2 separate regions of the Homo sapiens genome follow, and region 2 is linked to region 1. The links come from fine-mapping of genetic effects on gene expression. Tissue or cell type: whole blood. Region 1 holds a variant in brackets; the other region holds the start of a gene. All regions are shown on one strand. Distances are between the middles of the regions.

What was found. PIP is the estimated chance that this variant, and not a neighbour inherited with it, causes the effect.
Region 2: PPCDC starts here. The variant in region 1 is fine-mapped to the expression of PPCDC in whole blood (TOPMed, PIP above 0.99).

Annotation. Positions count from the first base shown.
Region 1 is chr15:74,399,984-74,408,084 of GRCh38, reverse strand. No RefSeq gene overlaps it. Among named protein-coding and RNA genes, the nearest start is that of MIR6881, 7.4 kb to the left of the region's middle. RefSeq lists enhancers at 2,065-2,164, 2,185-2,254, 2,275-2,324, 3,744-3,823, 4,084-4,353 and 7 more and a silencer at 4,909-5,118. The variant G/A (reference allele first, on the strand shown) is at 3,559.
Region 2 is chr15:75,019,927-75,028,027 of GRCh38, reverse strand. It overlaps PPCDC (phosphopantothenoylcysteine decarboxylase), which reads right to left and starts at 4,438. Exons shown (of 6, transcript NM_021823.5): 1 at 4,402-4,438. It overlaps SCAMP5 (secretory carrier membrane protein 5), which reads right to left. Exons shown (of 7, transcript NM_138967.4): 7 at 6,533-8,101.

The DNA of each region.
Region 1 (8,101 bases):
CCTCGCCTTTCCCGAGCCTCATTTCTCTCCTGTGTAAAAGGCAGGGCTGGACCTGGGCTTCTGTGGACCCTTTCCTGCACATCTCGTCTGTCCCAGTCCGTCTGTATTCCAGTGCACAGCCAAGCATCGGCATCAGGATGGGGGTTTCACAGGCTCCTGCTCAGCAAGCTGGAGGCTGGTGGCAAAGCAAAGGATGGGAGTGAATTCCAGCCCCAAATGGTCTGAGCGGCGAGTGGACAAAGTGTGGGCTTAAGCCTTGGTCCCTCCTGGAGTGCTGCTGGTGGTCTCCACTGAGTTCCCTGTCCTCTCTGGGCCTCAGCAGCCTCCCTCTTTCCAGAGATGCTCCTGGTGCTCTGATGGGTCCATGGCAGGGGATTTGAGTGATGGAACCCACTCCATTGTCTCTGTGGAGGCACCAGGAGAGGCTGGGCTGGGAGGGAAGCCGTGTGCATTAAGGCATGAAATGAGCCCGTGTAAATTCCATGTAAATGAGCTGGCAGGGATGAGGCCAGCCAGGCACAAGCCTCCTGCCCTGTTTTCCCCAATGGACAAGCAGCACAGCAGGCCTCTAGCTGGCGGTGTGTGGGCAGGACGGTTAGGCTGGGCCCGGGTGGTGGGAGGATCTGCTCTAGCCATAACCACACGATATCCACAGTCCCAGCACTGGCTTCTTGAGGGCCAGGCCAGGGACCAGAGCCAGGCCAGGGGCAGGAACCAGGCCCATCCTTCTCCCCTCTCTTGTGCATTCTCGTTGGGGAGGAGGAAGAGGGACGAGACTGAAAGCTCAGCTCTCCTGGGGAAGGCAGCAGGGAACTGCAGATTTCGTTCTGCCTCCCTCCCACTTTAGGAATGTAGAGTCATTACGGTTTATCCCCCATCCACATGTCCTGTCATCCTCTCTCCCCGAGGGAAGGCTGCTGTCCTCTTGTCTCTCTGCTACATCAAATCATACCCTTCCCATCTCTCCTCAGACTTCTACCTTCCTTTGCTGGAACCGCTCTGCATTTGCTCCTGTGATTCCCTCCCCTGGAATGCCAGGAGGAAGATGCTCCCAGGCAAAGATTTCAGAATGACATGGAATTCTCCAGAGGAATCCTGGATCCCCCCTACACTAATGCCTCAGCCTGTTCACTCCTGATCTTTGGGAGGGTGCACCTGGAAGCAAGCTCTGGGGTCCCTGGGGGAGAAGGCACAGCCCCTGCCCTGGAGACACTTAAAGCCTGGTAGGGAAGGGCTGTGGGCTGGACAGTGACCATACGTGTGACGGTCCTAGGTGGGAGGTGGGAGCTCAGAGGAGGAACCTAACCCATTGAGCGGAGTGCTCAGGGAAGGCTTTGAGTAGGGCCTTAGAGGATGTGTAGAAGTTCCCCAGGAGGAGAGTGACTGAATGGAGAGGGAACAGCATTTACAAAGGCCTGGGAGTGTGAGAGGGCCTGGGGTGTTATGGGCTCGCTGGAGTAAAGTGAGCTCCATGAAGCCAGAAATCCTTGGCAGTTTTGTTCACAGCTGTATCTCTAGTACCTAGAACAGTGCCTGGCACATATTAGGTGCTCAGGACATTCTTACTGAATGAATGAATAAGATGAGAGAAGGGAGAGTATCTAGAGGTGAGACTGGATGACTCCAGCAGTTCCCGATCCTGGGAACTAAAGCAAGATCTTTATCCTGCAGACACTAGGGAGCAATTGAAGGATTTTGAGCAGGGGTGGGGTAGATGATAATGATAATAATGGTGAGGATAATGGGAGCCTGAGATCCGTGTTTTCTTACACCCCATCTCTTACACCAAAGACCCACTCCTCACCATTTCCAGGTGTTTCTAGCTCCTTAAATGGTCCAATTTTAGCCTTCTGCTTACTGGAAAAGAAAGTGCAGCCATCCTGGCTACAGTGCCAGACAGGAGGTCTGTAGGCTTGGGCCAGTGGAATGGGGCTGAAATGGCTAAATCTGGCTCGGAAACACTTTTATCTCAATATTGGTTAACTCTGGGAGGAAGAGACCTTGGGAGAAAAACAAAAACAAAATCCACATTCTCAGGGTCACCAATGGCCATGAGTCAGCCCCCACCAAGGGAAGGAGCACAGAACCACACTCGGGAGGCGCTGGCCCTGTTAGTATGCTGGGGCGTTTCTGTAGGGTGGTGTTCACACCAGAACCGCTGCACTCGAACCAAGTCAAGGTCCCAGAACTCTGGCAGTTCTTTCAAGTTGGGCAAAATAAATGAGCTCAGAAGGGCTTAGGTAGAGGTGAACACGTCCTTTGGGGCTGAGCCTATATCATGGTGGGGAAACACATGGCTTGCAGCTTGATTCAGCTGTAGCCTATGCCTGGAGCAGGCATTGCTGATCAATTGTGGCATTCCTTTCCTGAGCTCATATGAGTGATTTTCTTCAGAACTTGCATTCTCTGGGGGCTACTGGGCACTTGAAATAGGGCTCATCTGAATTGAGATGTGCTGTAAGTATAAACAACACACTGGATTTTGAAAACATAATATGAAAAAAATGACCTTAAATTTTTACATCGATTACACTTTGAAATGATAATATTAGAGGTTGGGCGTGGTGGCTCACACCTGTAATCCCAGAGCTTTGGGAGGCTGAGGTCAGTAGATCACCTGAGGTCAGGAGTTTGAGACCAGCCTGGCTAACATGGTGAAACCCTGTCTCTACTAAAAATACAAAAATTAGGTGGGCATGGTGGCGTGTACCTGTAATCCCAGTTATTTGGGAGGCTGAGGCAGGAGAATCGCCTGAACCTGGGAGGCAAAGGTTGCAGTGAGCTGAGATTGCTCCATTTTACTCCAGCCTGGGCAACAAGAATGAAACTCTGTCTCAAAAAAAAAAGAAAAAAAGAAATGATAATATTTCAGATATAAGATATATTTGGCTAGATAACATACAAAAATTAATTCCACCTATTTCTTTAACTTTTTTTGTTGTTGTTGTTTTGTTTTTTAGATGGAGTCTTGCTCTGTAGCACAGAATGAAGTGCAGTGGCAGGACCTTGGCTCACCACAACCTTCGCCTCCCAGGTTAAGCGATTCTCCTACCTCAGCCTCCCGAGTAGCTGAGATTACAGGCGCCCGCCACCACGCCCGGCTAATGTTTGTATTTTCAGTAGAGACGGGGTTTCACCATGTTGGCCAGGCTGGTCTCCAACTCCTGACCTCAAATGATCTGCCCGCCTTGGCCTCCCAAAATGCTGGGATTACAGGCGTGAGCCACCGCTCCTGGTCTTCTTTAACTTTTATCTAGTGTGGCTACTGGAACATTTTAAATTATGTGTGTGGCTCATATTGTATTTCTGTTGGACAACACTGTTACGGAATATCTGCTCTGCGGGGGCAGGGAATTTTGTCTTTTTTTGTTCACAGCTAAATTTCATAGCACCTAGAGTAGCACCTAGCACACAGTAGGTGGTCAGTAAATTATTTGTGGAATGAATGAATGGATCCTCACCAGCATTTCTCCTTAGGAGTCACCAGCAATTGATCAGATGGAACTTATTTGCTACCCCGAGCCTAGCGGATGCTACACCACAGTGCTAACAACCCCC[G/A]TTTGTGCTTTCTGACTTTAGAGCTTGTGTCGCTCTCCTGGGACTCTCCTGATACCCAGTGGGGCAGGTGAAAGTGGACTCTGGTGAATGCACTGCTCCGCTGAGGGTCTTCTGAAAGGGAACGTTTCCGTTCCTTCTGATCAGGAAGCAGGGCAGTGTGCAAATGGTATGGAAATCACTTCTTGTGGGTGTTTGCCTATCTAGGGTGCTGGGGATACTTCCAGTCCACTTCCTGACCCCAGCCCTTGGTCCCTAGAGACAAAAGAGGAAGCTCTGGAGACTTTGAGCTCTGGGGGCAGATCGGGGGAACTGGGGCCCCCTTAGTCTTTCCCCAGCGAATGAGGGCTTGTAGCCCAGAGCATCCTCATCTCTCAATTCAGCAGGAGCCTAAAAATAGTCTGCAGTTTCAGCCTCCCCCACAGCCGCCCGCGCCAAGTGGGGCCCTGCGCCCGGCAGCTCCTCCACAATCCAGACTGTCTGCACAATCTGCCCCAGCTACCGACCCCCATCTCCTCGGCGTCTGTCCCATCCTGGCCCCTGAGAACCCTGAGCTCAGCACTCCCTGCTGTGAGGCCTGCTGAGGGTCTGCTTCACACTCTGCCTTTCCTAACAGCCTGGGCCCTGACCCCTGGAATTCCAGACCCCATGTTTTGTCCACTCTCCATTCTGGAGGGGACGCTAGCCAGACACAAGTGGGGTGAAGGTGTTGCAGGTAATGAAACCAGCACATGCAAAGCATGGGGTGCGAGAGAGCACAACATGCCATGGAAGGGGTGAGCCGGAAGGGCTGGGTGCACGGGATGGAGTACGGGGGCCAGTCCCAAGCTGGAAGGCAGCACCGCAGGTCTGTTGGCTCCCACCCCACGCGTGGATGCCCTGGAGTAGATGATGTCTTCGTCCAGCCCACGGTGGAGCAGGACTGCCCCTTGGATCAAGTAGCCTGCAGTAGCTCTGGTGCCACCCACACCTTGTGTAGAGCCCAGAAGGAACGCTTAGGTGCCAGGGCCTGTCTCCCTGTTTTGGGTCCTCCACATCTTGTGGGAAGCCCTGGTGCCTTCCGGCTCTGAGCTTCTGGGGTTCCTGCCTGCTTAGCAATACAGGAAGTCTCCTCAATGAGGTCCAGCAAGGGGAATGCCTCGAGGCAACCAGTACCTTGGTGGCAGAGCTGGAATGAAACCCTCCATATCCTGATGCCCAGCTGGGACCCGTCCCTCCCATCAATGTCGGGCGACCACTGCTGAGGACACATCCTGGTCAGAACCTGAGATACGGGGCTTGGGGACCTGCCCTGCAGAAGGGTTTCCTGGTGGCAGGAGTGAGTGTGCAGGTGACACTGCTGGCCCATGACGGTTCCACATTCTGAGTGAGCAGGGTCCCAGCTGCAGGAAGTGGTGGCGGCAGAAGTCACAGTCACCTTCCTCTCCTGGGGGCCGGCTTTCGGGGAAGCCAGGGGAAATGCTGAGCTCATGGGCTGTTCTTCCCACAGCTGGTTTCCAAGGCCTTTTCTTGTCCCTGACATCTCTCCACAGCCTCACCACAGCCCTCAGAGGCGGAATGCCATCGTGGGCATTACTGTCCCATTAGGCAGAGCAGGTGCAAGGCCAGCCTCTTGCTCTGAGCTACCTGCCCCTTCAGAGCCTGGCCTAGAACCTGGACTCCTGCCTCTTCCCACCTCCACACAACACCCTCCCCCAAGGAAACAGGGGTGGGTGGAATCTAGAAGCTTCTCAGGTGAGGTGAAGGTGTTGGGAAGGCATTAGAACTTGAGGTTTTCTCACCTCCACCAGCCCCTCATTTCCCAGCAGATGTGAGACCTCCTTGGTGTGCATGTCAGCCCGTGATAGGTCAGTCTCAGGACGTTTCCCCCAGCATGGGGCCTGTCAGAGGAGCTCCCCCTCCCCAGCCACCACAAGAGCCCAGTCACTGGGAGCGCCCCTGCACCCTGGAAGGCATCCGAGGGATCCAAGCCCATTCCTCAGCTTGAGGAAATGGCAGCCCCTGCAGAGGGCCCTGACTGGCCCTGTGAGTGTGGAGGTGGGGGCGTCCTAGCCCTGATACATCCTTTCCTGAACTCCACCCCAATCATGGGTATAAACACAGGCAGAACATCAATGAAGTGAGAGGAGAGTTGTCTGCCTTGGCAGCCAGCACCAGGGAAGATGGAACTGTGGCTTGTCTACCTGTCTGGCCTTCTGTTGTTCTCTGTCTCAGTCTCATTCTGTTTCCCTGTTGGTCTCTGTTTCTATTCTCTCTCTCTCTGTCTCTCCTTGTTCCTATTTCTCTCTCTGGCTTGACCTCTTATGCTCACTTACACAAAACAAGCATGCATATATACAACAGGTGGGCACATGGGACCACACGTATGACCTGCTCACCCATACACACGTACAAACATGCACATCTGTGCACACATGCATCCACACAGAATCCTCCCTCCTCAGATCCTGTATGTATATTCAGAGAAGGGGGTGGTGGTGAAGCTCTCTTTCCATGTATCCACAGGCTCAGGGAGAACCCACAGTTAATTTCCAGGCTGTTTCTGCCTCCCTGTCACTGGCAACTGGGAGCTTGGAGGAATAGGCTGGGATCCCCACTGATATCTGGGACTCTGGTGGGGATCTCTGGGCCATCATAACCTGCCAGTGAAGAGCATGAGAGGGGAGGGGGAGTCTCCGGAGGTGAGCAGAAGGGACGAGATAGGAAGATGAGATGTTGAGTTAGCAGTGCACTGGCCTGGAGGGCTCTCTGGCTCCTTCCCCTCCTGATGCTCTTCCTGGTGGTCCTGCTGAGATGCCCTATGACCCACCTGAGAGCTGGGGACCAGGGACGACTGGACCACAGGAGGCCCCAGAGGGAGGCGCCTGCAGGGAGGGAAGCCTCCTCAGTCATTTGCCCCACCCACAGAAAGCTGGAGGCTGGACGTCCCTAGGGTGTGTGGCCATGAGGAGAGAGCCTTTATTCCTGTCCTTTCAGGACAATGGGCCAGATGAGGCCCCACCAGGTACTTGGGTTTCCTGGGTGGGTCGGGGCTTTCCTGGAATGCTCAACCTTCCTGGTGTCCCAGGGTTGAGGTAACTGCATGGGAAGAGGGTAGGCAGGAAGCCCTTACGGTCTGTAAGGACCTGTCCTGCCCTGGAGTCTGGGTTCAGGTGGTCATCAGAGCCTGCACGCCTCCACCACTCTCAGCATGTGGGCCTGCTCCCTGTTCAGAGCAACCCCCTTACTGAGCACCTGTGTGGTGCAGGCTGTGCTGGGAGGAGGCTTGTGAAGAGCAGGTGAGCTAGGACTGGGCACCAGAGAAGGAGGAGCCCCTTTCGCTGCTGGGGCAGGAGCTAGAGCCCCCACGGGCATGTTTTGGTGTGGGGACAGATTCAACAGGAGCCCAGGGATCTTTCTGAAATGTGACACTTGCCTCCACCCTCCTTGCCAGAAAGGGACATTGCTCAGCCACCTGGCTCAGCTTCAATAAGCAAGTAGTAATAGTGGTGAACAAAAGCCAAATGCGTAAGTCACGCACCTGCCCGGGACTGTTCTGAAACTTTGTGTGAATTGTCTTGGTTAGTTTTCTCACCAGCCCTTTGAGGTTGATACTATTACTATTGTCTCCATTTCATAGTTCAAAGAACTGAGGCTGAGAAAGAGTAAGTAGTTTACCAAAATTTCACAACAAAAAGATGCATCTAATCTTTGTCCTCAAGAAACAGGGGTTCTACTTTTACTTTTTTTTTTTTTTTTTGAGATAGGATCTTGTTCTGTTGCCTAGGCTGGAGTGCGGTGGCACGATCTTGACTCACTGCAACCTCTGCCTCCCGAGTTCGAGTGATTCTCTTGCCTCAGCCTCTTGAGTAGCTGGGATTACACCACGCCTGGTTAATTTTTTTTTTTTTTTAATTTTTAGTAGATACGGGGTTTCACCATGTTGACCAGGCTTGTCTCAAACTCCTGACCTCAAGTCATCCACCTGCTTCAGCCTCCCAGAATGCTGGGATTACATGTGTGAGCCACTGTGCCCGGCCCAAGCTCCTGCTCTCTTTGCTGGGTTCGCGGTTAATACAAGTGATACACACAGCAGAGAGAAGCAGTCAGGTGGGCCACTCTGGCAAAATGGCAAAGATCAGGTCTGGGACAGAGTCTGCCCCAGTGACCAGGGTTCCCTACACAGAGTCCATTAGCACCCGAGTCTTGGACCTCAGAGGAAGATGATGGGATCACTTGTTCCAAGACACCCTGAGGCTCTGAGACAGGGAGGTCACCTGTCAATCTGTCCTACTTGGGACCGAGGTGGGCTGAGAGGCCCTCTGCTTGGGCTGCAGGGCCCCTGCAGGGGTTGAGGATCAGCTTTCTCCTCTCATTGGTTCCTGCCAGAACCATCTTAGGGAGCAGCTGCTGTGGGGGCTGCTCTCCCACAGCAGGGAACCCACATCCTGCCCCATTACAGCAAAGTGAGCATCCGGTGGGGGAAGGACCCCCACGGGGGGCCTGAAGCTGATGAAAGTTGAGTCAGGGTGACTCAGTGGAAGGCCTCTTCCCACTGCTGTCTCCA
Region 2 (8,101 bases), 620 kb before region 1:
TGCGTGGCTGCTCAGGGTGACCATCTCTAGAAGTCAGAGATTGCATCCCAGAAAAAATGACATTGGGGTTGAGTCCTGAAGGATGAGTTAGTTTTTCAGAGACAGGAAGAAATCACTTCAAAGGAAGGAACAATCTTGCCAAGGTGAAGGTCCTGAGGAGGGTGGCAGGTTGGGGAACAGGGAGTGGCTTACTAGTGAGGCCGGACTGTGATGGGGGGTGGTAGAGGGGCAGAAAGTGAGACTGAAAGTCAGGGTGAGGCCAGAATGCCGTGGGCAGCGAGGGCCAGGGTGAGGAGTTTTGGTTTTAGAAAGACGGTGCTGGCACCTGGTGACAGTGTCAAAGGGACCCTGTTAGTGGAGAGACTGGAGGGCGAGAGGAGCTGCTGCGGTGGACTGGGCTGACTGGTGAAAGGAAGCGGCAGGAAGGGATGGGTTCCAAAGATGCTCATGAGGTGGAACCCTGGGCAACAGGGAGGTTTGGGTGCTCCAGGGAGCCAAGAGATTTGCCTCTCTGTCCCTGTCCCTGTTAATCAAGATGGGCACCACCGTACAAATCAAAGCCCAGGAAGAAACCAGCATAAAGGGGATGCAGGCCACCCCAGGAGATTAGCTGGTTTGCTTCTTCCTCTGGCTCTCAGACGTTGCTAGAAGTGTGCACTCATGATAATATGGCTGATGGACACCAAAACCTACACGTGGCGGGTTGGGCCAGCAGAACGTGCTTCATCAGCAACCATCACTGAGGACCGATTACAAAGAACACCATGCAAAGGAATTGTGGAAAACACAGTAGCTGCCTCTGGGGAATCTGTAGGTTGAGTTTGAGAAGACAGGAATGACACCTGTCTGAAATTATTTGAGATCAGTCCTTCCCTGGGATGCACCTTTTTGGTGATCACAGACTCAATTAACACATCAGTTTCCTTGCCTCTCCCTCCACCAGCAAGCTCCCTGAATGTGTGACCGGGTCTAATTGCCAACCAGCAGTCCACTAGCCGGCAGTCCTGAACAGGTGCTGAATGAATAACTATACCCTCCAAGGCAGTGTGAGCAGAAGACAGATACCTAGCCTGTGAAGCAGAAGCCCTGGGCCCTGACCATGGTGTGCTCCTGACCTGGAGTGACCCTGGTCCAGGGTCATTCCCTCCCTGGACCTGTCCCTTCATCTGAAAAATGCAGAGGTAGGACCAGATGATCTCTGAAGCTCCTTCCAGCAGAAACTTTGAGTCAATACATGAAAGAGAGCAGTAAGGGGCTCTCCTTCCAAGACAGAAGGTCCTAGAAGATGCACTCAAAAAAGAATCAGCATGGCAAGGGAAACCCAGGCAGCTGCCCAGGAAGCAGCGCTGGTGAGTTGTCCAATGGCTACCTCCATGGCTGAGCATCCACAGGGGCCTATCTCCTCTTCACTCACAGGCCCCTTGGCTCTCTAGCCTCTCTGCCCAGGATTTGCCTTCAGCACTTGAGCACAACCCACGTGGGCTGAGGATCATGTTTGGCTGCATTATCCCACTTCTCAGCAGGGGTTAAGCACAGGCTGGTTCCCTAGGGCAAGATCACCCAAAGTTTGATTTGCCAGTAATCTCAATGTCTGCTCCACTGCAGGGCCCCAACCAGGGCAATGCTTGGCCAGAGTTGGAGAACTGAGTTTACCCCAGGGAGTGGGGAGCCCTGTTAGAATCTGACAAGGTACAGAAGGGCTACCAGCCAGCTTCTTCCCAGAACACATCATTGGTAGGTGATGGAGGCACATTCTTTATTCTCCAGGGAAACCTACCTGCCAGATCGCAAACCCTGACCCTGTCCCACCCTAGCCAACTGGTGCTAGGATAGGTAGATTCCTGCAAAACCAGAAGCCAAATTTTATCTCTGAGGCCCCTGAACCTCCTCCACATCAAGCTGATCTCATTCCTAGGAAACAGGTTACAGAAAGCAGTCAGTTAAACTTGGGGCAGGAATCTGTATTAGTGACTTCAACTGCTTCCCCACAGCAGGCACTATAGTCCGAAATACAGTACTTAGCCTGCTTAGCAAAGCTGTGCTAAGGATCAAACCTACCTACCTTCCTAAAAAAGAGGGTGTGTGTGTGTATGTGTGTGCTTAATATACTTGAAGAATAGAAAGTGGATCATTTAACCAACATTTGGAGGCGAGGTCCAATCAGTTCAACCTGAGAATTCCAGGAAGGGTGATGGCTGGCAGGATTCCTTCATTTGCTTGCAAAGAGGATCAAATTCCAAACCAGTAAGTCTATTACTGTAACCAGAACCTGTTGGAGTCACCTATTTGCACAGGTAGCTGTAGTACCTGACTTCCCCGGGCTCTGCTGAATTCACAGGAACTCCTGAGCAGCAAAAAGAGTTGGCAAGTGGGCAGGTTATAGGGCTACACGCTTTGATTACTGAGCCTCAAGATCCCAGGGCACTAGCCAAGCAGGTAAGCCACAGCCAGAAAAATGGCAGCTTCTCTATCCTCCAGAAAGACAGGGACAGACAGAGCAAAGAGCCTCAGCTTGTGATGTTTAAGTCTCCTCTGATGAGTTTAATTCAGGGCAGAGTTTTAGGTTTCAGGGATACCTGCCAGTCCCTATATGGGCAAAGGTGGAGCTGGCACAGAACCAGACTAAAGACAGAGCAAGGAAAGCAAGGCCAGACAGGGTATACGTTCAAGCTCAATACAGGAAGGATGAGAACTGAGCCTAAGACAAAGCAGAACCAAACAAGGGAAGTGGGTGGTGGGTAGGCAGGGATCCAAGATCCATTATGAGCCTGAATCCTTTAGCCTAACATCAAAGCCCCTCACTACCGGCTGCCCAGGCTTCTGCTCCAGCTTACACCTGTAATCCCAGCAATTTAAGAGGGCAAGGTGGGAGGATTGAGCAAACCCAGGTACTCGAGACCAGCCTGGGTAACATAGCAAGACCCCATACAAAAAATTTAAAAGTTAGTGAGGTGTGGTGGCACATGCCTGTGGTCTCAACTACTTGGGAGGCTGAGGCAGGAGGATCGCTTGAGCCTAGAAGGCTGCAGTGAGCCATGTTTGTGCCACTGCACTCCAGCCTGGGTGACAGAGAGAGACCATTTCAAAATATAATAATAGTACCACAAAAAAAAAAAAGTGTGTAGCTATTTACATAGCATTTACACTGTATCAGGTTTTATAAGTAATCTAGAGATTATTTAAATTATATGGAGGGCGTGGTGGCACGTGCCTGCAGTCCCAGCTACCTGGGAGGCTGAGGTGGGAGGATTATCTGAGCCCAGGGAGTTCGAAGATGCAGTGAGCTATGATTGCACCACTACACTCCAGCCTGGGAGACAAGAGTGAGACCCTGACTCAAAAAAAAAAAAAGAAAAGAAAAAAGAGTATACAGGAGGGTGATGTGGTGGCTCACACCTGTAATCCCAGCATTTTGAGAGGCCAAGGAAGGAGGATAGCTTGAGCCAGGAGTTTGAGACCAGCCTGGGCAACATGGTGAGACCCTGTCTCTACAAAAATGAAATAAAATAAAAATTAGCCGGGTATGGTTGTTTATGCCTGTGGTTCCAGCTACACAGGAGGCTGAGGCAGGAGGATCCCTTGAGCCCAGGAGGTCGAGGCTGCAGTGAGCCATGTTCCTGCCACTGCACTCCAGCCTGGGTCACAGAATGAGACCTTGTCTCAAAAAAAAAAAGTATACAGCAATCCCCTGCGGATACTGAGGGATAAATGTATCTAACACACACACTCACACACGTGGGCTACTAGAAAGGCAGTGACTGCGAATTGCTACTTCCCAGCCACTGTGAGAGATGTGGAAACCCCTGCTCCAGGACAACCACCACTTCCCCAACTTGGCAACCTCTCCTGCTCACCATCTAGCACCTGCTTCCAAATACTTCAAGGACAGCAGGAAGTTCTTTTCTGACAAGATTTGGCCTAATTTTTAAATAGCACTCAGCACTTTTTGGCAGGCCTAGGGCTACTTCCAACATCCCATGGCTTTCCTTTTTTAATTTTACCAACTTTTTAAATACACTTTGTACTTTGGGCAGCCCGGGTAAGCGTTCAGTGTGAGGAGCTGACACGGCCATCATTTAAACTAGATTAAACGACACTGGACAAATAATCGCAGAGCAGCACAAAGTCGGGCTGGACGGGTACAGATGCAAACCCTCCACTCAGGGCTCGGGGGTCCCTCCTGCTCCAGGCGGCCCCACCCGTACAGCCGGGAAAGTGAGGTCGCACAGATGGACGGCCGCCTACCCACGCACAGTCGCAAACAGAGCTTCATGGGCACACAGGGGAAAATAAGGACACACACAGACAGCCGTGGACCCACGCTCGCGGACACAGCTCCCCGAACCTCCCCTCCCGCGCCGCCGCGAGAACCCAGCTTCCCAGCCCCCTTCCACTGCTCACCCGCGCCAGGCGCGTCTCGGGGCCGCTCCCAAATATCGCGGTATCTCTGCCGCTCTCCCGCGGAATCTGACTGGCACGCCTCACGAGAGCACCGGGCTGGCTGTATGTCGCGCAGCCTTCTGGGAGCTGTAGTCCACTTCTCTGCCTTCCGGGAGTTGTAGTCCACTGGGGAAATCCTGGAGCAAACCCTGGCCCTGTTCTTTGTATTGCTGGGACTCTCGATAGGGGCTGGCATAACTGTCCGACCTCCTTTCCTCACTCCTATCAGCCCCACACACACTGCTTGTTGCTTGGGGCCTTTTTTTTTTTTTTTTTTTTTTTGCTGTTGTCCCAGGTTTATTGAAAATATTACAGTATCTCAAAAAGATTCAAACAGCTTCCACGTGGCGTTTTGAAATTCATCCCCACTGTTGGCTGAGTGACCTGCAGGTTGGACAGACTGCCAAAGTCCAAAAACATCAGCATTTCCTTAATGTCAGGATATGTTAATACTTCAATGATTTCCTGATCCAGGGCTGAGACCTCAGGAACATGATTATCTCTCCTTTCTCTCTTCTCCTCCTGCAACTTGATGCAGATACCTCTCACTGAGCGCTTCAAATCAGCTTCATCACATGCATGTTGTAGCCTGCTATCTTGTTGGGGAGCTGTTTTTTTTTTTGTTTTTTTTTTTTTTTTTGAGACAGGGTCTGGCTCTGTCACCCAGACTGGAGTGCGCAGTGGTGCTATCTCCACTCACTGCAACCTCCACCTTTTGGGCTTAAGCCATCCTCCTATCTCAGCCTATGGAGTAGCCAGGACTACAGGAGTGCACCATCATGCCAGACTAATGTTTGTATTTTTTGTAGAGACGGGTTCTCACTCTATTGCCCAGGCTGGTCTCAAACTCCTAGGCTCAAACAATCCGCCCACCTTGGCCTCCCAAAGTGCTGGGACTACAGGAGTGAGCCACCACGCTCGGCCCTGGGGAGCATTTTGCTGGAAATAATGGTGATCTCCTTGCACATGTGTTGTTTGTGTGGAAGTTGCTGCCCGGGTGTGTGTATTACTTTTTTATGACGAAGTATAGAAAAGGGCTATCTTCATGGTATTAGTGTGAATGGGGCCCATGTTGGCAGGTCCTTAGTAAAAGAGGGCTCGTGGCACTTAATATTTACCAAGCCTCTTCTATTTTAGGTGCACAGGATACAGAGATAAATCAGATGCGTCCCTGTTCTTGAGACAAACAGGGACACAGAAAATGACAGGGTAAGATCCTCCATGAGGAAGCAACACCTCTAGGCAGGAAAGCCTTCTTGAAGGAGTGACTTGAAATGAATCTTGAAGGACAGCCAGGAGGTTAGATAGAGGATCCCAATAGCGATCCAGGTGGAAGGCATCAAATGGGCAAAGGGAAGGCGGCAGAAGAACACACACTGGCATGCTTCCCTGCCCCCTTCATTTTCTAGCCTTCACAGGCCCCAGGAACCTCTGTATTCATTGAGGTGGCTGAACCAGCTGCGGGTCCCCTGCCCTGAGCTGAGGTGGGGCCTCTGCTCTACCCCCGCCCTTAGCCGCAGTGGACCATCTGGGCCAAACCATCCCTTACGCAGGGATCCAGCCGTGTCTTTTTTTTTTGAGATGGAGTCTTGCTGTGTCGCCCAGGCTGGAGTGCAGTGGTGCGATCTCGGCTCACTGCAAGCTCCGCCTCCTGTGTTCACGCCATTCTCCCGCCTCAGCCTCCCGAGTAGCTGGGACTACAGGTGCCTGCCACCTCGCCCGCCTAATTTTTTGTATTTTTAGTAGAGATGGGGTTTCACCGTGTTAGCCAGGATGGTCTCGATCTCCTGACCTCGTGATCCACCCGCCTCAGCCTCCCAAAGTGCTAGGATTACAGGTGTGAGCCACCACGCCCGGCCGATCCAGCCTGCTTCTTCTACTTCCTCCTCCCAAGGCAGGGGGCCTAGGTGGCAATTTCATCACCTACTGAAGGCTGCCTCAGAGAAGGAGCCACACAGGGTCGTATAGCTCTAGGTCTCGGGGAATGACAGACCACAGATCCACCCACCCCCCATACTTTCATGCCCCTGCCCCACAGCCCGCTGTGAGGCTCCACGCAAGTCCACAGGAAGACACATGACACAGCAGAACACACAGGGCCAAATGTTCCCCTTTATTATGGTTCACTCAGTTACCAAAGACAGACACATTGGCTCAGGCAGCTCAACTGCCAGCTGGGGAACATCCAGCTCCAGAAACAGGGAGCAGCAGCGGCACCAGGAGAATGGCAAAGCAGGTCACTGGGACCCCAGAACTGACCTGGGCCCTCCTTCACCCGACCCCAGGCCAGACCTTCCTACAAAGATGAATGTGTGCCCTGCCCCCACTTCTCATACTGGTTCTCTCCCCGGGAAAGTGCATAGTTGCCTGGAGATGCAGCATCCCAGGGCCTGAACAAGCTGGGCCACACACCGGGATCAGGCTTCCCAAGGGTAGAGCCAGAGCATGGCCATATAGGTCCAAGCCAAAGAGGCAGGTAGGACAGGAAACTGATTGGAGGTAACATCCAACAGGTCATGGATGCTAGGCAGGGAGCTGGATCACAGGCCTCCTGGAGCTACCAGAGAGAGAAGGGAAAGGGAGCCAAAGTTCTGGGGTAGGGGAGAGGAAGGGAAAGGGAAGAAGGGCCTAGACCTAGGTACCTTTTCAGGTACCAGGGACTGTGACCATTGCTCCCAAGAGAGAAAATGGGAGAGGGGAGAGGCAATTATATTTTGTGCCCAAACCTAAAGGACCATCAGGAAGAGAATTTCCAGAGGCCCCTGGCTCAGGATGGCCTGTAAGCCTAGGTATTGGGTTCCAAGCTGAAGCCAGGCCAGAGTAGCCAAGTGGGGTTTGGATTTTTGTCCAAACAGCTCAGGCAAGCTTCTGGTGGGAGAAGGGAAGGTGGGAAATGGGCAGATGCTCTTTGGGCGAGAACCCACTCCCCTTCAGGCCCCGCACACAGCTAGAGCCTCTACCAGCCATGTTCTCACACTGCTTGGAACAGAACAGCCCCACGGGCCTAAAACCACTCTCCTGAAAGTGGTAGGGAGTTCCGACTGGGTGAGGACAAGCCAAGACCAAGGCCTGTAGGCAGAAGGGAGCAAGTTACCTTGATTTGGAAAACAAAACAAAACTAAAGCCAGAGAGCCTCCCCTCCCACCCTGCCTAACCTGAAATCCCATTCAGGCTATTGTGCTTGCAGCCAGGACTGGGCCTGTGCTTCTGCTTGGGCCCTGAGTTCAAGTGCCCAGAACCGCCCTGTGACCAAGAGCAAGCCAGGGTGGGGGAAGGCATGCTCCCCTCTCACTGGGCCCTGCCTGCCTTCTCCTCTGACCTTCCCTCCGTGCCTAGCCCTCTGAGCCCTGTCCTACCAGATCCAAACAGAACAGCTACTGCTTCCAGGAATCCAACGGTCACCGAGAGATACCTAAATGCCTCACTGTGCTGGAGCCAGCCAGACCTTCCCCAGGGACCAATCATTACTGACATGCCCTCTGCTCCAGCTGTGCCTTTACATCTGACAACTGCCCAGCATGTCCCAGCTCCTCAGGGAAGGCAGTAAGGCAGATGCCACCTGGCACATGGTGGGGTCAGGGTAGCAGAATCAAGCCACAGCAACTGGGGGCATGGGGAGGAGGCAGAGGGACATAGGCAGAGGGGCTCAAGGGGGCTCTGG